2 separate regions of the Homo sapiens genome follow, and region 2 is linked to region 1. The links come from fine-mapping of genetic effects on plasma protein levels. A gene starts in region 1. The other region holds a variant in brackets. All regions are shown on one strand. Distances are from middle to middle. Region 1 holds the start of CLIC5 (chloride intracellular channel 5). Region 2 has its middle 53 kb from the start of ENPP4.

The links. A credible set is the group of variants that fine-mapping cannot tell apart. PIP is the chance, under the fine-mapping model, that this variant and not a neighbour inherited with it causes the effect. Protein levels are from antibody-based Olink assays in UK Biobank. Linkage for the fine-mapping came from a reference panel and not from the study's own genotypes, which makes the PIPs less certain.
Region 2: its variant is the best candidate, but not a certain one, in a credible set for the plasma level of the CLIC5 protein (UK Biobank, PIP 0.74).

The regions. Positions count from the first base shown.
Region 1 is chr6:46,010,311-46,022,615 of GRCh38, reverse strand. CLIC5 (chloride intracellular channel 5) reads left to right here and starts at 6,756. Exons shown (of 6, transcript NM_016929.5): 1 at 6,756-7,136. The coding sequence starts at 7,074. It also overlaps the pseudogene RNU6-754P. RefSeq lists enhancers at 5,954-6,798, 6,799-7,643, 11,072-11,121 and a silencer at 7,056-7,105.
Region 2 is chr6:46,071,189-46,083,493 of GRCh38, reverse strand. It overlaps a transcript of CLIC5 not described here. Among named protein-coding and RNA genes, the nearest start is that of ENPP4, 53 kb to the left of the region's middle. The variant T/C (reference allele first, on the strand shown) is at 4,372.

The sequences.
Region 1 (12,305 bases):
AAGGACACCTTAGGTTATAAAGAAATAGAACTAACAACTCACCTCAATCCCCCTCATAGCCCAATCTGTGACCTCATGCAGGTGTGATCCCTCTAGGATTCACCTCCCTTCGTCTACACCCAGTTGGTCCTCCCACAAGGGCATAATGTCTTTCTGAAGCTGTCATCAAAATCTTCCAGCTTAAACCTCAAGTCCTTGAGATTGTCTGGGAGATCTCCTGCAGAGAATGTAAGTTGTTTAATTCCCATGGAAATAGCTGCTACTCTGGGTATAGTGAGTGGGCTCAACTGAGTACTGCTAGGTACATAAAAGCTGGAACTTGTGACTAATAATGTGATTGCACTCCGGTAGTGGGTAGGGCAAGCATTTTCTGAAAAATCTCCCCATAAGCATCATCATTATTTTACAGTACATGTCATTTCATAACACACACACACAAACACACTGTCTAAATATGTTTATTTTGTTTTGTTATTTCAATGAAAGTTTGTTTTATTTTGTTGATCAGCCTAATTAGAAGCACTGCATCTCATAAAATAGAAATCTCTTTTACATTTCTGAAATTAATGGTAAGATGAGGTCTGATGTTACAGATTTGAAGCAAAGACTGTGTGGAAAGTGGGTATGGCAATAGAACCTGATGGCTTTACCTTTTTGGAAATTATTTAAGCATTTTGATCATTTTTTAAATTTGCATACAGAAAATTCACCTTTTTGGTGTGTAGTTCTGTATATTTTAACACATACAGAAATGTGTGTAACCAATGACACAAACAGGATGCAAAGTAGTTCTATCAGCTGAAAGCTGCCCCTTTGTAATCAAGCCCTCATCTATCCCAGTCCCTGGCAGCCACTGATCTTCTCTCCATCCCTATAATTTTTTTATTTTCCAGAATGTCATGTAAATGAAACCATACAGTAAGTAACCTTTTGAGACTGCTTTTCTTTTTCACTTAATATGGGGCATTTGAGATTTACCTGTGTTGTGCACCAATTAATAGCTCATTCTTTTTATCGCTAAGTGATATACCGTTGCATAAATGTTATCACTTTTTTTAATTCATTTACCCATTGAGGAACATTTGGGGATGTTTCCAGTTTGGGGCAATTATGAATAATACTTTTGTAAAAAAAAATTTATGTACCAAGGTTTTATGTAAACATAAGTTTTCATTTCTCTTGGATAATACCCAGAAGATGGTAAGTGGGCCATATAGTAAGTGTACATTTGACTTTATATGAAAATGCCAAACTGCTGTCCAGAATGACTGTACAATTTTGCATTCCTACCATCAATGTATGAGAGTTCCAGTTGCTCTGTATTCTTGCTCACACATGGGATTATCATGAATGCACATTGTAACCATTCTAATAGGTATATTGTGGTATCTCTTTATTTGCATTGCTCTACTGAAGAACGTTGAGCATATTTTCATGTGTTTGCCATTGGTAAGTCTTCTAGGTTAAAGTGTCTGCTCAGATATTTTGCCTATTTTTTTAGCTGGGTTTTTTTTTTTTTTTTTTTTTGAGTTGTAAAAATTCTTTACAAATCCTGGATACAAGTCCTTCACTTCCTCCTCTTCTCATTACTGGAAGAGATTGCATGGAATTGGTGTTATTCTTTCTAAAATGTTTAGTAGAATTCATTAATGAAGGTATATGGGGCTGTAGTTTTCTTTTCTTGGAGGGCTTTCAACTATGAATTTAATATGTTTAATAAATATAGGACTATTCAGGTTATCTACTTCTCATTGAGTGAATTTTGTTAGTCTGTGTCTTTTATCCATTTTATCTAAATGGTCTAATTTATGTTCAGAGAGTTGTTTGTAGTACTCCCTTATCTTTTTGTATCTGTGAAGTTCATAGTTGATATCCCATCTTTTGTATCTAACATTGATAATATATCTTCTCTCTCTAGTTTTTTGGTAAATCTAGTGAGAAATTTATCAACTTTATTGATCTTTGATAAAAACCAGCCTCTAGTATTATTGATTTTCTCTATTGTTTTATTTTTTCTTCGATTTCATTAATTTCTGTTTTTATATTTATTATTTTATTATTTTTGCTTGCTTTGGTTTTAGCTGGCTGTTCTTTTTTCTAGTTCCATAAAATGGAAGCCTAGATTATAAATTTCAGAACTTTATTATTTTCCAAAATAAGTGTTTTATGTATAAATTTCTACTAAGCGTTGCTTTAGCTGCATCTCACAAATTTTGATATGTTGTATGTTCATTTGAATTCAGTTCAAAATATTTTTTAATAATCCTTGAGGCTTCCTTGTTGATCAATGAATTTCTTAAAGTGTGTTGCTTAATTTCCAAATAACTGGAAGTGTTTTGGATATCTTTCTGGATATTAATTTAATTGATTCCATTATGGTCAGAGAACATACTTTGTATAATTTCATTATTTTAACGTAATGAAGTTTGTTCTGTGACCCAGAATGTGATCTCTTTTGGTAAATGTTCCATATATATCTGACAATAGTGTATATTATGTTGTTGTTTGGGTGGGATATTCCACAAATGTTCATAAGGTCAAGGTTATTGATAGTGTTGTTTAGGTCTTCTATATTCTATATTCTTATGGATTTTTTGTCTACTTGTGCTATAAATTACCAAAAGAGGAGAACTGAAGTCTCTAACTATAATTCTGTATTTCTCTTTCTCCTTTCAGTTCCATCAGCTATTGTTTCATCAATATTGAAGCTCTGTTATTAAGTATATATGCATTTAAGGTTGTTCTATCTTCTTGGTGAGCTGGCTCTGTTATTATTATTATTATTATGTAATGTCTCTATTCCTGATAATTTCCTTTTTCTGAAGTCTATTTTGTCTAATAGACTTACATTAATATATGTTTATATATTATTAATAATTATATTAATTTAGAGGTTAGCTTTCTTTTTTTTTTTTTTTTTTTTGAGACGGAGTCTCGCTCTGTCGCCCAGGCCGGACTGCGGACTGCAGTGGCGCAATCTCGGCTCACTGCAAGCTCCGCTTCCCGGGTTCACGCCATTCTCCTGCCTCAGCCTCCCCAGTAGCTGGGACTACAGGCGCCCGCCACCGCGCCCGGCTAATTTTTTGTATTTTTAGTAGAGACGGGGTTTCACCTTGTTAGCCAGGATGGTCTCGATCTCCTGACCTCATGATCCATCCGCCTCGGCCTCCCAAAGTGCTGGGATTACAGGCGTGAGCCACCGCGCCCGGCCCAGCTTTCTTTTGATTAGTGTTTGCATGGCAGGGGCTTTTCCATCCTCTTACTTTTAATTTATCAATAACATTGTGTTTGAAGTGAATTCTGTAACAGCATATAGTTGGGTCTTCTTGTTGCTTTTTTATGCAATCCAACAATCTTCAGCTTTTAATTTATGTGCTTAGACCATTTATATTTAGCTTAAGTATTAATATGGTTATATTTAGGTGTACCATTTTATTATCAGTTTTCTATTCTCTTCCTCTTTTCTGCCTTTTAGATTATTTGAATATTTCTTGTCATTCCATTTTAGCTTATCTGTTGGCTTTTTTTTTTTTACTATACTTTTGTTTTATAACTCAAATAGCTGTTTCTTTAGGGATTACAATACACATACCTAGTTTTTCTCAGGCTACTTAGAGTTTACTATATCAAGTAAAGTATATAAACCTTACAACTGTATAAATTCCTTGCCCTTTACCCTTTATGCTGCAGTGGTCATATTATTGAATCTAAATATATTAAAAATGCTATCAGATATGTTATAGTTTTCACTTTCAACAGTCATACAAAAATATGAATGTCACACAGATTTGCATGTCACCCTTTCATTGGAGCCATGCCAATCTTCTCTGTATGGTTTCCATTTTAGAATATGTGCTGCCAAAGTGAGCACTAAATGTGTTTTTAAAGTACTTTCCTGGTAAAAATTTATTCAAAACTTGCACCACATTTGTGAAACTATGGGCTGGAATTAGACATATAGTGTTTTTCTCCAGACAAAGCTAGAATTGACTCTAACCAATTATTCTTTAACATTAAAGGGTACAAAGTAAAGTCCTTTTATCTTGAGCTAAGGCATAATATGAAATTGAAAATGGAAAATATGCACAGAAATAGTTTATGACCAAAGAAGAATTATTTTTTTTGCAGCATGAAGCTTTATAATATCAAAACTATAAGTTATCTGCAGGGATGTCCAAATGGGAGATATTTCCTATAAAATGTTATTGAAAGAGATCTGTCCAAATTTACAATAGCAGTAGATATTTGGAGAAGATAAAATGAAAGTTAACTCTGATAGGTTTGGGATTAAGGAAAGAGAAGTCATACCACACATTGTTTAGATCATAGCCAAGGAAATGATCGAAAATACGTGTAACACATTTTTCATTAAAACAAAAAACAAAAAACCAAAACCCTCGAAGACATTTTATGCATATAATTTTATTTGCTACTGCCACATTGCCATTAAGAATATTGCCTACACTTCAGTGCAGGGATGTTCTGAGTCTGTGCATCATGCAGCGAAGGCACCAGTCTCCCTCTGTAACCTTGGTCCTTCCCTAAAGTATGTAGTCATTGGTGCAGAATGTACAGCTGTGAAGGTGACTGTTTCTCTAAAGGCTTTGGTGATGTAAGCCTGAAGCCAAGCAGGAGGAAAGCAATTAAACATCACCTTGATTAAGTTATAATGTACCAAGAGAGTTGCACGTTGGGCTTGGTGACTGCTTTCTTCAGGAAGGAGGAATTTGCACTGAGAGTCTGTGGGGACACAGCCTGCCATAAAGGGTAGTGAGGACATCTTTCCCTTTTCTTTGCCTATCAGATGCCTGACCTTTCAGGAAGGTTCAGCTAAAGTGCCTTTTGCTCCATGAAGCCTTTTCCTCTCCTCACCCCAACCATGGTAAATAGTATCTTTACGTGACAGCTTGTATAGCTCCTTCATCTTCCCAATTCATGTGGCAGCCTTAGTTTTCATTTCATGTAACTATTATTCTGAAAGGGATTTTGATCTCTGTTAAGACCGTTAAAACCATGCCTTTGTTTCCTCAAAGTGTGCACTTCCATAGTGTGCACTAAGAAAAGCAGTTTGTAGAGCAGTTGAGAGGACAGGCTCAAGTCTGTCTGGGTTTAAATCCTGACTTCACCATTTCCTAGCTGAATGACTAGGGATAAGTTACTTAAATACTTCATGTCTCAGTTTCCCCACTTGTAAAATTGGGATCATTATACTATTTGTAAATATTATACAAGTTCACACATGTAAAGTGCTCAACATTTTTGCCTAGCACATAATAAGTATTATTACTTATTTTTTTATTAAGCGATAAATTTTTTAATAAAGCTATTAAACAAATACATGTTTTTAGTAAGGAAGGACATAGCACAAACAGGATTAATTAAAGAGAAGGCAAAGAAGACAAAGAGAATTCCACCAGATTCTGGTGCAAAACATTCAATAATTATTTTTTAAAGAACTGAAGGGTGGGAATGTCTGTTGGTGCAACCACTTTAGAAAACCTATGGCAGTGTTTACACAAGGAGAGCATTCTTATACACTACAACTCAGCAAGTCCACTCCTAAGTATACATCCAAGAGAAAAGTGTCTGTGAATCCAACCAAAAGATGTTTGATAGAGAGAATGTTCGTGACAGAGTAGTCATGATAGTCACCTGCACAAATGTCCATTGACAGAAGAATGAATAAGTAAGTGTGTCGGTGAAAATGGATGATACACAACTACACATAGCACAATGGATGAATCTCACAAACATAGTAATGAGCGAAAGAAGCCAGACACCAACATTCCAGGCAAAAAGATCCTATGCTGCTACAAGCCAGAATAATGGTTACCCTGGGACAGTGGAGACGGGAGAAAAGATGTGGAGAGGAGAGAGCAGGAGGAGCTTCTAGGGCTGTGGCTAACATTTTATTCTTCATCTGGCGCTCGTTACATGGGTGGGTTGGATTGTGAAAATTCATTGAGGCATACACCTAAGATATGTGCATCTTTTCTGTGTTTGCATCCTACTTCACTAAAACAACCAGAAGAGAACGGGAATGAAGTAAGATCAGAAAATAAAGGAAGAAATAGAAAGAAAATGAAAGAAGGGAGAAGAAAAATAAACAAACCCAGAAGGCTGAAAGGCATGGAAGCCGCACCTGACCGGGTTGACTCACCCCTCTGCCCCAGGAGCCACCCCTGCCCTGCCCTGCCCGTCCCCAGCACCCTACTCTCCTTTTGCTTAGCCCAAGGATGGCAAATGCCCCTTTTGGTGGGGGTTCTGAGCATCACTAAGACAGGAAGGGCTTTCCAAGTGGGTAAGGCTGGTAGTGGAGTAACTCGGAGGAGCTGACGCTTTATTAAAGAAACAGAAGACTTGAGAGCCATCTCCTCTCTTCCTTCCCCTTCCCCTTTCCCCTTCCTCTTCCCCTTCCCCTTTCCCCTTCCTCTTCCCCTTCCCCTTTCCCCTTCCTCTTCCCCTTCCCCTTTCCCCTTCCTCTTCCCCTTCCCCTTTCCCCTTCCTCTTCCCCTTCCCCTTCTCCTCGACTCTTTCTGCCTTCGCCTCATTATCCGCCCCCAGGACATCCTCTTGGCCTTGGTGGCTTTGCCAGGACCAGCTCTGTCTCCGCCTCCTGCCCTGCGGGGTCTTGGGGCGGGGGGCCGTGGCCCGGCCCAGGCCCGAGCTGCCGGGGTGTCCCCGCCGCGTCCCCGCCCGGCTGACCCCGCCCTGCAGCCGCCGGCTATTTTGGGCGCGTTGGCGGCGGCGGGATCGCTGACAGTCGCGGATCCTGTGACACCTCCGGGCAGCCCGGCACTTGTTGCTCCCACGACCTGTTGTCATTCCCTTAACCCGGCTTTCCCCGTGGCCCCCCGCCTCCTCCCGGCTTCGCTCCTTTTCATGTGAGCATCTGGGACACTGATCTCTCAGACCCCGCTGCTCGGGCTGGAGAATAGATGGTTTTGTGAAAAATTAAACACCGCCCTGAAGAGGAGCCCCGCTGGGCAGCGGCAGGAGCGCAGAGTGCTGGCCCAGGTGCTGCAGAGGTGGCGCCTCCCCGGCCCGGGACGGTAGCCCCGGGCGCCAACGGCATGACAGACTCGGCGACAGCTAACGGGGACGACAGGGACCCCGAGATCGAGCTCTTTGTGAAGGTAGGTCGGGGTCCAGTCTCCCGCCGCACCTGCCGCGCCTCCCGCCGGGCTCACCCACCAGGGCTCGGGGTGCGCTGGACTCCGGACCCTCCCAGGAGGGCGGCGCGGAGCCCTGTGCTCCCCCGTGGCCTTTCCGCAGGCCAGCGCCCCGCTGCGAGGCTCCTGGGCGGAATGGAGGAAGGCAGGTTCCGGCAGGTGGCCGTCTTCTCGGAGAGTTGATCCGCAGTTTGTCCACCCCCGTCCCCGCCTCCGCTGTCACCGCTGCGAGTCCGAGTCCAGAGCCCAGCCCGGACGCGATTCAGGCTGGTCCTGAAAGACGTCTCCAGGTGTCGGGATGCGGCAGAAACCTGGCTGGACCCGTGAACCTTTCCTTTAAAACGGGAGGAGGGGGAGGAATGGGAGAGAAACGTTATTGACACAATGATCTTTGGCAAAGCGAAAATGACATTTCTTAAAATTCTCTTTCTCTCTTTCGCTCAGAGATCCTAAAATAAAAGCCAAGGAGACAAAAGTGTTTTCTTGCTTGGTGACTTGCAAAGCAGAAAACAAGCACTCCATTCTCCGACGTTATTATTTTTGTCATAATCATGATTTTTCAAGGCAGTATCAAGGAAATGTTAGGCGTTTGGTAGTAGGGAGAGCCTCCCGTTCAACCTGATGCAGACAGGGATGAAGGAGCACAGTGCAAATTAAATGAAGTCACCTTGCTCCTTGGACAGAAACTGCCTAATGTCAGAGCTGCTGTACTTTATTTGCAACCTGTAGGAGGAAGGATGGAGGCGAGGCTGCGGCGGCGTTTCCCGGTCCGCCGGTGTAAGGAGAAAGAAACATTTGATCAGCCCTTGGTGCCGACGCTGCAGAAGTAGGGAAACCTGAGGCTGCGGGAGAGTAGCCTCCAGGGCTGAGCAGAAACAGTCGCCAGGACTTGGGGGAGGGGAAGTCGGGGACTGCCTGGGCGCCAAGACCTTTCACAAAGGGGGAAAACTCTCTCAGTGCAAAGTTTCCCTAGAAATATGCAGATCGCTGAGAAGGGAAGAGTCACTGGTGCCTGTCAGGGGCCTCCTGGCAGAATTTAAAAGGCATAAATATTCCCTGGAATTGGGAAAATGTTATTTTGCCCAAAAGATCCTTCTCTACAAGCTAATTAAATAGATGTTTGCAAAAAGTATGAGATCTACATAAACCTTGATAACAATCTGTGGTCTTTGGTACTTTCTGACTCTTAAAATGTGACTTACTTTACACTTGGTACGTGATCTGTCTCCGTTGTCCCAGCCTACCACAAAGGTTTGTTAAATTTCTTCTGCTGGGTTTTACATTCTTTGTGTTTATTTTTCAAGCTTACACCTGACATTTAGTGACACTTGCTTTCTTCAGCCTGTTCTCTTCCCACTGTGGCCCCTGTGTGCTCCTTTGGTTTCTGGGACTCCCCCCACCCCCACCCCAGGCTGGATTTCCAGGTCCTTTGGCAGACCCAGGTAATAAAGGAGGTCATTTCTCGTCTGATGCTGGGTAGTGTTGGACCTTAGGGCAGCAAGGGGGTGTTCTGAACCCCAGCATCCAGGCCTGGGCCCTAGGGGTGAATAGGGAGAGCTTTAACAAAGCGATGAGTCTTGCTGCTCTCCTTGAAGAAAGCGATTCTAGGACTTACTCAGATTCCTTGAGAGTGGTAGTTTCAAGGTGTCAAGTTTCTGAAAGATATTTGAAACACAAATAGGTTCTTTAGAACCAAAGGAGCCCTTTGCCCCACTCCTAGGTGTGGAGACCGATTCTACCTGCACCTTTGGAATTTTCTTGTTGGCAGTGTTGGAGAGTCTCTCCATTTATATAAAAACCTTACTGCACAATTTGCAGCGTTCCCCAAATAATTCTAAAATGACTGTGTTGTCATTTGTTTTTTCCCTAAAGGAAATCAATGAGAGCCAGGCAGGCCTTCATGGCTAGCTCAAAAACCAGATTGATGGGGAGATCAAAACATCAGGTATGAAAGTTGTTTTGACTCCTCCCTCAACCCCATCTTTTTGAGCTTCAGGTTAGCAGTTCTCATTTACAAGTAAATGGGACAAGTAAAGGCTAGAAATATTGTGAAATAAAGATGCTGCCCAGGCCTTACTTGAACTGTGTCATTTGAGGGAAGCAATATCCTTGTTGACAGAATCACACTTTTCCAAAGTTTGGAGTTTCTCTGAGGTACATGATTCCCCATAAAAAGAAAGGCCTTCTTGTTGATGGTGTCAGGTAACTGAAGCTCTTTCTGCAGGGCAGGGTGGGTTGGTTTCTATGAAGACTTCCAAGAAGGATGGGTCCCACCCAGTTATAGTCATGACTTGGTCATTTTCAACACCCCCTTGGAAGGACCTCCCAACCTCTTGTTTCCACTGGGTGTACCACTCTAAATCACAGTCACCTAATGAGTTTCACAATGACATGTAATTGTAATTGTCTCCCACGTCAATTGATAGTCATTATCTGTTACTACTACTGCTGATAATGATAATGATAAGAAGAAGGAAAGATTGCAGCATATTAGGACATAATAAGTATGTTCAAATACCTTATCTCATTTGATCATCAGCAACTTTATAAGGCTTGATTCACTTATGTGAAAGATAAAGAAAACAAATAAACTGGATTCACAGGTACCTTATGAGACTCGCTGTCAGAGCACTTGATGAGCTGCAGTTTGCTCTTCTTGTAACAGCCCAGGGAACTAAGAATGATAATTCCTCCTGTTCTGTTGAACAATACATGTGCTCACAGAAAGTAGGTAAAATGCCCAAAGGTAGATGGCAGATAGCATTCAGATCCAGTCCTCAAATCTAGCAGTTTAGACTTTGAATTTCTTGCTCTTTTCCAAATACCTATATGTCAGGCCTGATACCTTATTTTGCCAAGTTAGGCTTTCAAGTGCCATCATGGTGACATTTATTTATGTTATTAATCCATTCTAATGTGTTCATAGAATGCTTCCAAGGAGACTAACCCATTTCTGCTATGTACTCCGAGTCTTTCCCTTTCGGGGAACATTCTGACAGTGACTTTTAAGAGATTATTTCCCCACATTTTTAGTTTCTACAATAAGAAATGTTAGATCATGTCAACTCTGATTCTAATGTCCCATAATACCTGTGGATGGCGCAGGGATTTGGAGATGCAGTACCTGAGTTCAAGTCTTGCCTCTGCCTCTAATTAGCTAAATGATCCTGAACAAATTATTTAACTTTCAGGAGCCTCACTGGCCCTCTTAAAACAAGAGCATGGTTATAAATAAGGAGACCATATAATTTATTGTCCAAATCTAGACACTTTTGAGAGTGAAAGGGAATGATATCAATAATTAGGCTGGAACCACAGGTATAACCCAGGATAGTTTGGGAGCAAATAAGGATGTGTGGTCATTCTGGTTATGAAAATACTGTCATTGTAGATTTGCTGTGAGGATTCCATGGGAGAACATAGGTGAAAACACTTTGTAAATTGAAAATTGCTGTAAACACACTGACTTGAATATTATGAGTCCCATGGCAGACTGAACCTTTCTGGACCTGCACGTCCCTGATTTGCCTTGGGGAACAAAGGCCTGGCTCCTTCCTCACTTGCAGGGATATTTTGAGAGTAAATGAGATAATATGTAGCTTGGACTTTGATCCTAAGAGGAGGACAACAGGCTAGAGGTAATGGCAGTGAGTGTGGTTTATTGAAAGAAATAGAGCAAGGAAGTAAAAGCAAAACAGAAAGCAATTTGAAAAGACAAACACAGGATGTGCTGTGTAGGTTAGATCAAGGCATTCCACCCATTTGCATTGCTTCCTCCACTCCCAGTCTCACCCCTGGACCCCAGAAGTGACTAATGATACAGACAAGCTCGCCGCAAGTGTCTCTTCAGCCAGGAACTGAGGTTTCAACAGAAACCAGTGGTTCTCAGCCTTCACTACCTATTCAATCCATTGAGAGAGATTTTAAAACTTCTGATGGCAGTTTGCTCCCCAAGCCGATTACATCAGTGTGTCTGTGGGTGGGACCCTGAAACAATATTTTCATATCCACTCTCAGGTGGCTCCAGCGTGCAGCCCTGGTGGAGAGCCACTGAGTCATAATCAGAGGCAGGTCCAATAGCAGGCAGCTTCTGCCACCGCTGACATAGGTGGCCTTGCTAATGCTGATTAAATGTCCAGAACTTCTAACAGCCTCAGGGCATCACGGTCAGAAGTGTTGTTGATAGAAAGCTTGCATCCAATCACTGCCCAGTTAACAGATGCTGACGAACTATTAAGCCCTATCCACAGGACTCCAGAACAATCGTGTATAGGGTTGGTCTAGTCAAAGAATCATCAATTCAGCATGGGGGAAGTAAAACAGAGTTCTGCTAATTGTCTGATGGAAACGACTAGTCTTTCATTTATTGAGTGGCCCAAAAGTTTCTGAGTGGTGCAGGGTGCAATACAAGTTGTGGTGACTCGTGGTGTGGTCATCTGACTTCCAGAACAGATAGGATCAGATCTTGTGGTGTCGCCTCTATGTCCCTGAGCTACTGTGACTGCCTGGTCACCTTGGGCCGCTTGCCTAAGCATGAGCTCACTAGGTTTTTAAAGTTCCCTTCATCATATTAAGCTACTGTGTTTTTCTTTCCCACTATCTTCAGGTTTTGATCTGTAGTCAATAACGCAATACACAAATTTGCCTGCCCTGCTATGGCAGTGAGTGCTTCTTCTCCTGGTAACACATCCCTGGAGAGCTAGCGTCAAGAGTTGTATGATGCATATTTGAAGTGCCATGGCAGGGTGGTGGGAATGAGGACTGGGTCTGCAGAAGCTGACGTCCACTGCCAGTGTTGAGAGCTCCTGCATCCCTGATGACTTGTGTTGTCTCTTTGGGCATTTATTGGCCCCCTCCATGCAAGACAAAGCGTCTGTCAATTTAGACAGTCAGTTAGGTCAAAAACTTCTCATTCTTGGTTCCCTTTGAGTTGTCAGCTGCTGGCCCCATGTTAGTGGTGGCAAGAGATGTGGTGGAAGAGTGAAACTTTGGTGTCAGGCTCGGGTTCACCAGTGTGTTGGCCAGGATGGGCTGCTTGACCTCTCTGGACCACAGATTTTTTTTTTGTTTTAACCAGTGCAGTGCTAATAGCAGCAGCACATCTTTCATGGAGTTGGTGTCAGCATTTCAAGC
Region 2 (12,305 bases), 61 kb before region 1:
AAACCAACAAGAACAAAGACACAACATACCAGAATCTCTGGGACACATTCAAAGCAGTGTGTAGAGGGAAATTTATACCACTAAATGCCCACAAGAGAAAGCAGGAAAGATCCAAAATTGGCACCCTAACATCACAATTAAAAGAACTAGAAAAGCAAGAGCAAACACATTCAAAAGTTAGCAGAAGGCAAGAAATAACTAAAATCAGAGCAGAACTGAAGGAAATAGAGACAGAAAAAACCCTTCAAAAAATTAATGGCTCAGAAAACTGAGCCAGGAGTAAAAGGACATGAATGCTAGATACATCTTCTTCCTTTAATTTATTTATCCAACAAATATTTAATAGGCAGCTATTACATATCAGATATCTGCTAGACTTTAGCTATATAGCAACGTGAAAAAATAGGCATGGGCCTTGTTCTCGTGAAACGTAAGTACCCAATGAAGGATAAATATGTCAGCAATCTTAAAAATTCATTCAACAAATACGTATTCATTCAACATATATATAATATGTACCAGACACTGTTCTAGGTACTTGAGATAATGATGAAAAAGTAGACAGAGATTCGCCGCCATATAGGGTTTACATTCTAGTAGGATAAGACAGAAAATAAAACCTCTAGACATAAAAAATAAGTTATGTATATATCTTATTAGAGGGTGATAAATATTATGGAAAAGGGGGGGAAAGTAGGGTAAGGGTTTTTAGTAATGGAACAGGGATTAAGATAGGATTTGGGATGGGTTGTCATTTTAAACAGGACAGTCAGTGTAGTCTCATTGAGAAGGGGACATTAAAGCAAAAATTTATAGGAGTTGGGGGAATTGACTATGCAAATATCCAGGGAATGTGTGTTCTCTTAGAGAGAATAGCCAATGTAAAAGGTCTAATATGGGAATATCCAGGAGTGTTCCAGGTATAGAAACAAGGCTCAATTGTCTGGAGCTGGGTCGGCAAGGGGTGAAAAAACAGGTATAGGAGAGTGGTTGTGGATTATGCAGGGCCATGTGGGCCGTTGTAAGGACTTTGGCTTTCACTAAGATAAATGGGGAGCCATTGTAGGGGTTTGAGCACAGAGCAATATGACCTGACTTACATTTTAACGGAAGGACTTGTTTCATATTACAACCTGTAACTGTAGATCATGATAGATGTGTTCTAAAATGGGATAAGAGAGGGACCTAATTTGAAATATCTGTTTGATCTTGGGCCCTAAGCTTAGCCAACCTCAGCCCTGCCTCACTGGGTCATTGTGGTGAGGACTTGACAACATGCTGTATCCATATGCACATGCTGTATACTATTCTTTGTAATAATGCAGAATGAAACAGAATCCAGTGTTAGATTATGAGCTACACACTGCATTAGTAGTAAAAGCATGAGTTGCATTGTGGAAAGGAGTAGTGTCACCCCCCAAGGGGTGAAAATTGGTTCTTGGGAAGCAAAAAGAAAAAAAAGTTACTCTTTTAATGTACAAAATGCATATGTATATACAATATGCAAACAGATATGTAGTATATCTGCAGCATTTTTATTTCATAGAGAAATATCTGAAAAGGCTCCTTTGGGAGCAGGGAAGGGACAGTGTGTGATCATGAAAAAAAGATTGGAAAATACTGAGTTAAGGAAGAGATTTAGTAGCAGAAATATTACTGAGCTGGAGGTTCAAAAACCACAGCTAAAGTCAGCTCCGCCATTAAGTTTTTGTGTAAACTTGGACCATTCACTTCCACTTTCTAGGTTTAAATTTTTTTCAAATGTAAAATAAAATGTTTGAATGATCTCTTAGGTTTTCACCAGCTGTAAAACTAGGAGGAAGATTTGAACTGGAATCCATTCAATTAAAAACACCTGATTATAGAACCTATCAAAATGTGTAAGGTATTTGGACCCATTGAATGTCACTTTTCAATAAGATAAATGTCCAGTGTCAATAGCCTTTGAAGTCTCTGACCTCTTTTTCCTTACCCATTCTTTAAGCTAGAATTCTAGAAATGCTGCTCTAATTCCCAGTAGAAGATTCCTGGATACAATATTGAAGTCTAAGAGTACAACGAAGTTTTGCCAAGATGCCCATCAAATGTTCTGAAGCTTGTCAACAGGAGTTGCATTGCTTCACAGTTTTCACATGATTTCTAGACATTAAAGTCCCTTTACAACCTAGCTGGGTTGTCACTTCAAGGAGAAAGATGTATGTGGTGTGGCAAAGGGAAGCAGGAATTAGCAGGATAGAGTACCAGATTAAAAAGAATTTGGGGGGCACACATATTCACAGCATCTGTGGATGGCATTGACTGAACAGCCTTGTGCATACAATTTTTTATTGCTTATCCAGACCTGGGCTTATTGCACTAAGAAAACTTTAAATAGTTTTTCCTCGGTTTTATTTTTCTCTTCTGGGCCCTCCAGCTACATTTAAAAGCCCCTTTGAAGACAGAGAATGTGTCTTCTAACGCTTTTGTTGTGCTCAATTCAGCATTCTGTATATGATAGGATTTTAGTGAATGTTTGTTGATGGTGATGATCATGCAGATTTAAGGGGGAAAAATAAAAATTAAAGCCATAAGTCTTTGAGTCCCTAATTTGGGTGGTCTATACTGATGTGTCTATAGGCCAGAGCATTTATCTTCTTTTCCTTCTGCTGTTTAATCACCTAGTGGTGTTTCCAGATAAGAAATGTAAATGGAATTCATTACCTAACCAGGGCATGTAATTCATTTATCACAGGGTATCAATAGGCAAATAATTGTTCTATGTGATAAATTCAGCAGTAAATAGATGAGAGGCCATTGTGAAGAATTGTAGCTCTCCACTGAATTGCAGGGGTTCTTGAATGTTGTCAACATTTGGAGGCAGTTGGAGGAGGGAGCTCTATTGATGAAAAATGGCTACATATTCAAAATTTCAGTGTATACCAGGAAGATAATTCAATTCAATCTCTGGCTTACCCAAAGAATCTTGGAGTTACTGCCAATGAGGAAATCCCCAGGGTCTAATAAAAATATCTTTAGGAGTGAAGGAGTTAACTGAGTGTGTAAGCTTTATCTTCTGTCCAATGGACTTGTGGTTTGCTTATAAAACTCTCCAGTAAATAATTGTTAGAGACCTGTCATTGATAGCAGTTGCTAGTTGCTGCCTTTTAAGAGCTCGTTGATTCCTCTGCAAGGTGGTGCAGCATCCTCTGTCCCTTCATTCATTTCAGATCTACTCAGGTCTCCCTGTAAACAGATCTCTCGGATCAATAAGCATGAATGACGAAGACTACAGCACCATCTATGACACAATCCAAAATGAGAGGACGTATGAGGTTCCAGACCAGCCAGAAGAAAATGAAAGTCCCCATTATGATGATGTCCATGAGTACTTAAGGCCAGAAAATGATTTATATGCCACTCAGCTGAATACCCATGAGTATGATTTTGTGTCAGTCTATACCATTAAGGGTGAAGAGACCAGCTTGGCCTCTGTCCAGTCAGAAGACAGAGGCTACCTCCTGCCTGATGAGATATACTCTGAACTCCAGGAGGCTCATCCAGGTGAGCCCCAGGAGGACAGGGGCATCTCAATGGAAGGGTTATATTCATCAACCCAGGACCAGCAACTCTGCGCAGCAGAACTCCAGGAGAATGGGAGTGTGATGAAGGAAGATCTGCCTTCTCCTTCAAGCTTCACCATTCAGCACAGTAAGGCCTTCTCTACCACCAAGTATTCCTGCTATTCTGATGCTGAAGGTTTGGAAGAAAAGGAGGGAGCTCACATGAACCCTGAGATTTACCTCTTTGTGAAGGTAAGGTCTGCCTCTGACAGGCATACCCTGTTCATGCAGATATTATGGCTGGTGTTTTATTTTGCTCTGAATGACCAGGGAAAGATTCATAATGCCATGGTCCTTGGATCTCAATACATATTCAGGAGTCGGAGGGACTAAATCAGTCATTAGAGTGTACTCAGCTCTTCACAAAATTAGAGGAATTGGAAGGTGCATTTAAAGCACGTATTTAATCACTGACTTTTACATACCATGGGCAAAGTATTTTTCAAAACGGTTCACATAAGTGAGCCATAACTGCTGCCCAAATCCTTGCCATTGTGGCTGACATTAAGTACATTTTTCTGTCTGGTTAAATTTCCTTTGTCAACATGTTTAAAAGTGAAACCAAAGCTTGTGAAAGAAAGACCTTCTTGTGCTTCTAAGGTCACAGATTTGTCAGATAGGTGGTCAATAAAGGCTATCTCTGTCACTAGCTTGCCCCTTTGGCACCAATATAACTAAAAATTTGATGAAGTCAAATGATTTCAGTAGTAGTAAGACACTACCAGTGTTAATGTTTAATGCTTACGATATCTAAACAGAACCTTGGTGATCT[T/C]TGTATTAGATGATAAAGTAATAAAGTTATGGTTATAAATATTATCAAAATGTAAAGTGTTTCAGACCTAAACAAATCATCTTTATTAATCAAGATGGCAGGCCCTTTTTCCCCAACATCTCCCCCACAATATTCATATTTATGTGATTTTTAGAAATGTTTTCACATTTATTATATAAATATATTTGTAAATGCTGCTCTTTCCTGCCAATAAAAATGATTATAAACCTACAGAAACCATAGTTCATACTCATTTCTCTCTTCCCCAGTTCCCAGTAACATTTCTGATGAAACACACTTTACTAATTTTGCCCTTTGTTGTCTTGTAATTTGTTCTTTTCTCTAATTGTTTTGTGTGTAAATCATGGATCACTTATTCTACTACAAGGTCCTTTTAAAAATAATCTAGTATAGTGCTTGGTTCACACATACATACCAGACACACATTGCCTTGTACTCTGCTGAGCATTTGGGGGGAAAGGGCTGTGCAAGACAAGGCCCTTGCTCTTAAGTAATGAATAATATGGTGACAGAGACAGACTTGCACTCAATGTATTCTAATACAATATAGTAAGAGATGAAACAGAGGAGTGGGTGGAGTGTGTGGGTGTTCAGAGAAGGAGTGCTGAGATGTGTACTGAGTTTGGAGCAGCTCCACGGAGGAGGTGATGTTAGAACAGGTGCATTCACGCAGTTTTCTGACCTCCATATCCACATCATCACTGTCACACTGTGCAAACAAACTTTTTTTTTTTTCTTTTTTGAGACAGAGTCTCACTGTGTCACCCAGGCTGGAGTGCAATGGCATGATCTCAGCTCACTGCAACTTTCACCTCCCAGATTCAAATGATTCTCCTGCTTCAGCCTCCCGAGTAGCTGGGATTACAGGCATGTGCCACCTGGTCTGGCTAATTTTTGAATTTTTAGTAGAGATGGGGTTTTGCCATGTTGGCCAGGCTGGTCTCAAACTCCTAACCTCAAGTGATCCACCCGCCTCAACCTCCCAGAGTGCTGGGATTACAGACGTGAGCCACAGCTCCTGGCCACAGACTTTTTTAAAGTGAGGACTAGATGTATTTTTTTTTTCTCATGGCAGAAGCATCCATGCAACCTGTGACAGGCAAAGTGGGTCATCACCATGATCATCATCATGGACCCATCTGACATTATTTCTAAATTTGGCTAAGTGTTTATCTCACTAGAAATTAGCCTATGGCTGGTATTGAGCAAAAACAGAAGTAGTAGGAAAAAGAAGTGTTGGTACTTCCTGGCAGTACCAGCAACAGGGAAAATTGATTGACTATAACATGTAATTCCTAAATTACTTAAAATTTCCTAAAGCAAATATTAGATTTAACTCTTTAAGTTTACATTCTTTTTAGCATAATTGTGTGAACTGAAAGGCCATAGAGTGTCCCACTGACCTCAGCTTCTATGCATAAACTCCTTTTTAAGGATATTCAGTAATAAAAAGAGCGGCAGTTATAATCCCTGCTTCCTAGCTCCACACTCGGCCCTATCTTCACTGAAGTTCCTTACCCAATGTTGAATGGAAGTAGAATATATAAAATCGAGTAAAACAGGGCCTTCTCTGCTTGAGTGAAACTGTAGGGTGTGAGTGTGACCTCTCAGGCCTTTTCCTCTTCCCTGCTCTGTGGAAGGGATGTTGGTCCCCCACACTGGAGGGAGCTCTGTGGCTCACTGTCTTCCTAGTAGGGCTTACGGCTTTTCAGTTCTGGATGTTCTTCTCCTGGGCTGTTTTAGTGTGGACCACTGGGCTGCATTGATACTTGTATTCATTTGTGTATGTTTTCACCTGTTCTAGACATGTTGGTGAGAATGTCATGCAGGTTTGTAAGTATATGTTTAACCAACATTTTATTGAGGCTTAATCATTTCAGAGTGTTGACCAATTATTTAATTAAGTAACATATGTCATTCATTTATTCATTCAACAGATCTTATGTCAGGTGCTGGGTTTACACCAATGAAGAAAAAAAAAGTCTCGTCTCCCATGCACTTTTTTTTTTTTGGGACGGAGTTTCACTCTGCCACCCAGGCTGGAGGGCAGCTCACTGCAACCTCTGCCTCCCGAGTAGCTTAGATTACAGGCATGCGCCACCATGCCCAGGTAATTTTTGTATTTTTAGTAGAGACGGGTTTTCACTATGTTGTTCAGGATGGTCTCGATTTCTTGACTTCAGTGATCCACCCACCTCGGCCTCCCAAAGTTCTGGGATTACAGGCATGAGCCACCGCGCCCAGCCATGTCTCCCAGGCACTTTGCATTGTAGTGGGAGAGACAACTGATAAACAAATAAACAAATAAATATAAAATAGGGCTAATGGTGAAAATGCTATAAAACAGGATATGGGTGTATTAATTTCTTATTTCTGCTCTAACAAATTACCTAAAACTTAGTGGATTAAAAGAATACAAATATTCTCTTACAGTTCTGGGGGTCAGAAGTCTGAAATGAGTCTTATGGGGCTAAACTCAAGGTGTCAGCAGAGCTGTTTTCCTTCTGGAGGCTCTGGGGAGAATTTGTTTCTTTCTCTTTTCCATCTTCTAGAAGCAGATCTCATTCCTCGCGCATGGCCCACATCACATCACCTCTTCTCGCCCTGTTTCCATCATCCCATTGCCTTCTTCCGACTCTCCTTGCATTTCTCTTGTAAGGAACTTTGCGATTAGATTGGACCCACAAGGATAATCCGGGATAATCTCCTCATTTTAAAATTCTTAGTTGAATCACATTTGCAAGTCCGTTTGTCACATAAAGTAATCTGCAGCTTCTGGGAATTCGGACATGGCCATATTTGGCGGATGGAGAGTGACGGTAAGTAGGCGCGAGGCAGTAGTGTGGCTGCAGTGGGTGAGCCAGGGAGGCAAGGTGGTAGGAGATGAGGCTGGAGAGGTGCAGAGGCACAGACCATGATCACAGCAGTCCTTAGGGGCCACTAGGGGAACCTCACTCACTCTGAGTGACAGCGGGAGGCATTGGGCGATTTTGGAAGGAACAGTATGGCCACCTTTTTATAACAGGCTGTAGCTGGGACGGGTAGACACAGTAACAGGGAAAAACAGTTTAGAGGCAACTGACAAACTTCAGGCAAGAGATGAGGGTGCGTTACTGTGACAGCAGTGGAGCATTGGGATTGTTTTGAAGGGAAAGCCCAAGCATTTTGCTGAAGAATTTGATGTGGGTGAAAAGAAAAATAAAGAGCCATGGTTGACTCTAGAGATTATAGTGAGCTATGGACCCCTTCTCAGAAAATGTGCGAATGAGAAAGCTGATATTCGCTAATGTGTCTGTATGTATGTATGTTAAAGAGAGGGGATGGGTGGTGAGAGAGATGGAGAGAGAAAAAAGCATTCTAGTATTTTGTTTAATGCAAAGGAAGAAAGTATTCTGATAATGGTTATTGCAAAAGAAAATGGTACAAATAAACACCATTTGTCCTATACATAATTTATGTCATTTATTATGGAAGCGGAATATGTCTTAGAGCAGGTTTTTGTTTTCGTTTTTGTCTTGAGACAGGGTCTCACTCTGTTGCCCAAGCTGGAGGGCAATGGTGCAAACACAGCTCATTGCAGCCTCAATCTCCTGGGCTCAAGCCATTCTCCCGCCTCAGCCTCTAGAATAGCTGGGACCACAGGTGTGCACCACCATACCCATCTAATTAAATTTTTTGTTTGTTTGTTTGTTTGTTTGTAGAGACAGGGTCTTGCCCCGTTGCCAGGGCTGTTCTTAAACTCCTGGGCTCAAGTGATTCTCCCACCTCAGCCTCCCAAAATGCTAGGATTACAAGCAGAAGCCACTGTGCCCAGCCCCTAGAGCAGGTTTTGAAGTCTGGTTGCATGGATTTGAAACCTACTTTAGCAGATTAATTTCTGTTAAATTATTGAGCTTCTCTCAGCCTCAATTTCCTCATTGATAAAATGGACATTATGATACCTTCCTCATAGGGTTATTATAAAGATTAAATAAGATAATGCTTATAAGTTGCTTAATATAGTATCTGACATATGGTAAATGTCAATATATAGGAGCCTAAATTATTACTTATTGTGATAAATTGGAACCATTCAGGAAATGACGTTTTATTTTAAGCATAGTGCTTTGCAGCAAGCATTCAGTAAATATCCTACTGGGTTTTTCAAACATGAGCAATACAATATTGTGGAAAGAGCAGTGGTCAGGGAATTCTAACACAACTTTGTCAATACTTTTGCATAAAATGTCCCTGGACCCAAATTTCTTCATCCTTGAAAGGAATCTTTCCTAGATCTTACAGTCTTAGATTCCAAGGTGTATGGCTCCAACTCCTGGTCAGTGTGTACATGTGTATATGGCACCACCTATTATCCACTCTAAGATACTGCTCAACACTGACTATGGTTTCTAGATTTGGCTGTGGTTGGAAAAGTTGACATAAGAACAACACTCCTGTCCACACTCAGCTCACGTGAAGCCTGTCCCTTGGAAAGTATCTGCAGCTTCAGAGCCTATCTCTGATAGAACACTTATAGGGCCCTCATGCGGGGATGCACAGGTTGTGCACTGAACAAGTTTAGGGGGCACTATTCACAGAAAATGTAAATGTCCTGTTGAAGTCAGGCAACAGAACAACACTGGTTAATACTTTTTAGACTCATAGCCCATAATTATTCTAAAGGAATTATTCACTATAATTTGGCTCAGCATAGTAAAGTGCTCCAGAATTGTCGTAATTACTATTATTGCCATAGCAGAGGTGCCTGATGTGGTTATAGGGGTCATGGTATTCAAAATGGGGCACTCAACATAATCCATGTGGTGTTAGAATACTATAATTAGAATGAAAAATAATAAGCAACATTTCTATTGAACTTTTATCTAACCACCTTAAATGTTAATATTTTATATATTTTACAATGAGCACAGTGTACTCTTACAGTAGTATATACATATATAATTTGTAAGTGAGTAAATATACATATATTGTGGGTAAATGTTTTATATTGATAGGGATATGCAATTTTAAAAAAACATTACTGATTTGTAGGCTTTCCTTCCTTTTCTGCTATGATCTGTGGGCCTGGACCTCTTTCCTTGGCCAAGAGCTGATGAGAACAGATCCCCTTACTTCCTAGGTTCTTCCTGGATGCTTTCATAAGCAACACATTTAGTGCATTTACCTTGGAGGCAAACAAAGTTTTATCATTGCAGGTGAGAAACTTATAAAATCCCCTTGAGGAAATGAGATAAATGAAGCTGGATTGGGATGTTGAGATGTGGCTCAAAGGACGTCCCAGGCAGTGGGCTCAGCAGAAGCAGAGTCACAGCCAACACTCACATGTGTATGGCAAGGTCCATTTGGTTGAGTGGGTCAGAAGGCCCACATAGGTGAAGAGCAGATGACGAAGTTGAATAACTAAGAGTGCTGCCTTTCACTGCAAACTAAGGGGCTTGGATCTTATCCTGAGAGCAACCAAGAGTAATAGAATGTTCTGAGGAGGATACCATGAGCAAAACAATGTTTAGGACAGCAAGCAAATTAAAAAGAATTTCCACCTACCAGCTAGAACAGAACCAAACAGACATCATGCTTTGTTTCAAAGATTAGTTCAAGTATTTAGATATAAATATATCATATATCATTAACACTGTATCTCTTCAACTGATCATCTGGATGTGTCCACGTATTTAAATCTGTGGCTTCATATAAACCAATTTTCGTGGAAAAAGCTAGCTGGTGTGATGCTGATTTATATATTATCTATCTGTGTATCCAGCTACTTTATATTTTGTGAGGGTAAGGGGGAGATATATGGATTCAGCACAAGGTTTTGATTGTTATTTTAGTATAGTTTCCAGTTTAAAAAGTGTGTTTGCATGGGGTGAGATAGCCTGGCTGGACTCACTTAATTAGAGTGCTGGGAACACAATCAAGGCCCAGTTTTATTCAAAATTATTTTCTAGGTGCCCATATGAACTGGTTTGCTTTGTGAATCAATGCCATTAATCAAAGACTCTCAGAATCTTAGCACTGTGCCAAGAATGTGGAAAGTCAGAGGAGTGAACCAACCTTCCTAAGGCTGCCTGCAAATCACTGGCAAGCTAGTACATTGGGCTGTCCATCCAGGGGATTTTTCTTTATATCGGCATTCCTAGCCTGGGAATATATTCATATGTTCATGAATATGCTTCAGAAGGTTGAGGAACATTCTAGAACCCTATGCAAAAATATTTGTGCCAGATGATTTCAGGAGGGTCCATGAACTCTCAGAAATGTTAACTATCACTGTGATGCTTTCCACTTTCCCTGCCTGGGTACTCACACCTTGTGTGCCCATGTGGGAGGGGTAGAATAAGCTATGGGGTGAAACAAATCCTTTTCTAAGCCTTTTAGCACCTTTAGGAACCATGGGAAGAAACCTTCATGAAAGAATAATAAAGAAGCATCACCAAATAATCATGTGAGAGTTATGTTAACTCTGAAAATGAAAGTGATGTGATACTCTGAAATACATATCCCCAAATTAGGGCCCATATTTTTTTCTAAAGAATGTTTTGCAATTTTTCCCCCAAGAGACTACAAACTCAATGTCAATGCATGCACTACTAATCCCATCATCCTGGACAGCATCACTAATTGTACAAACTAAAACTTCTGAATAACTTGGATTTGCATTTCTCCTTTACTTTCAATAGTGCAATCGATTTCACCTCTGAAAATATTCTCTCCTCTTCATCTTGGCCACTACTGATCAGTGTCATCTTGACCACAGCTGTTTAACTGGTCACTCTGCCTCTAGAGTCATCCATCTCCCTAGGATCCCCCCTCCCCCCACCTAGCCACAGGAATGATCCACATGTGTTTCTTTTTTTTTTTTTTTCTTTTAAGTTCAGGGGTACATTAGCAGATTTGTTATATAGGTAAATTTGTGTTATGGGGGTTTGTTGTACAGATTATTTCATCACTCAGGTATTAAGCCTATTCCCATTAGTTATTTTCCCTGATCCTCTCCCTCCTCCCACCCTCTACCCTCCGATAGGCCCCAGTGTGTGTTGTTCCCCTCTATTTGTCTGTGTGTTCTCATCATTTAGCTCCCACTTATGGGTGAGAGCATGCGGTGTTTGGTTTTCTGTTCCTGCATTAGTTTGCTAAGGATAATGGCCTCCAGCTCTACCCATGTTCCTGCAAAGAACATGATCTCGTTCTTTTATGGTTGCATAGTATTCCATGGTATATATGTACCACATTTTCTTTATCCAGTCTACCATTTATAGGCATTCAGGTTGATTCCATGTCTTTGCTATTGCGAATAGTGCTGCAAAGAACTTATGCATCCATGTGTCTTTATGATAGAACAATTTATATTCCTTTAGGTATATACCCAGTAATGAGATTGCTGGGTAGAAGGGTCATTCTGTTTTTAGGTCTCTGAGGAATCACCACCACACTGCTTTCCACAAAGGCTGAACTAACTTACACTCTAATCAACAGTGTATAAGTGGTCATTAATCTCTGCAACTTTGCCAGCACCTGTTATTTTTTGACTTTTTAATAATAGCCATTCTGACTGGTATGAGATGGTATTTCATTATGATTTTGATTTGTATTTCTCTAATAATTAGCGATAAGCTTTTTTTCATATGGTTGTTGGCCCCATGTATGTCTTCTTTTGAAAAGTATTCATGTCCTTTGCCCACTTTTTAATGGGATTGTTTTTTTCTTGTAAATTTGTTAAATTTATATGAAAAAAAATTTAAGTTCCTTTTAGATGCTGGATATTACATCTTTGTCAGATACATAGCTTGCAAAATTTTTCTCCTGTTCTGTAGGTTGTTTACTCTGTTGATAGTTTCTTTTGCTGTTCAGAAGCTCTTTAGTTTAATTAGATCCCATTTGTGAATTTTTGCTTTTGTTTCAACTGATTTTGG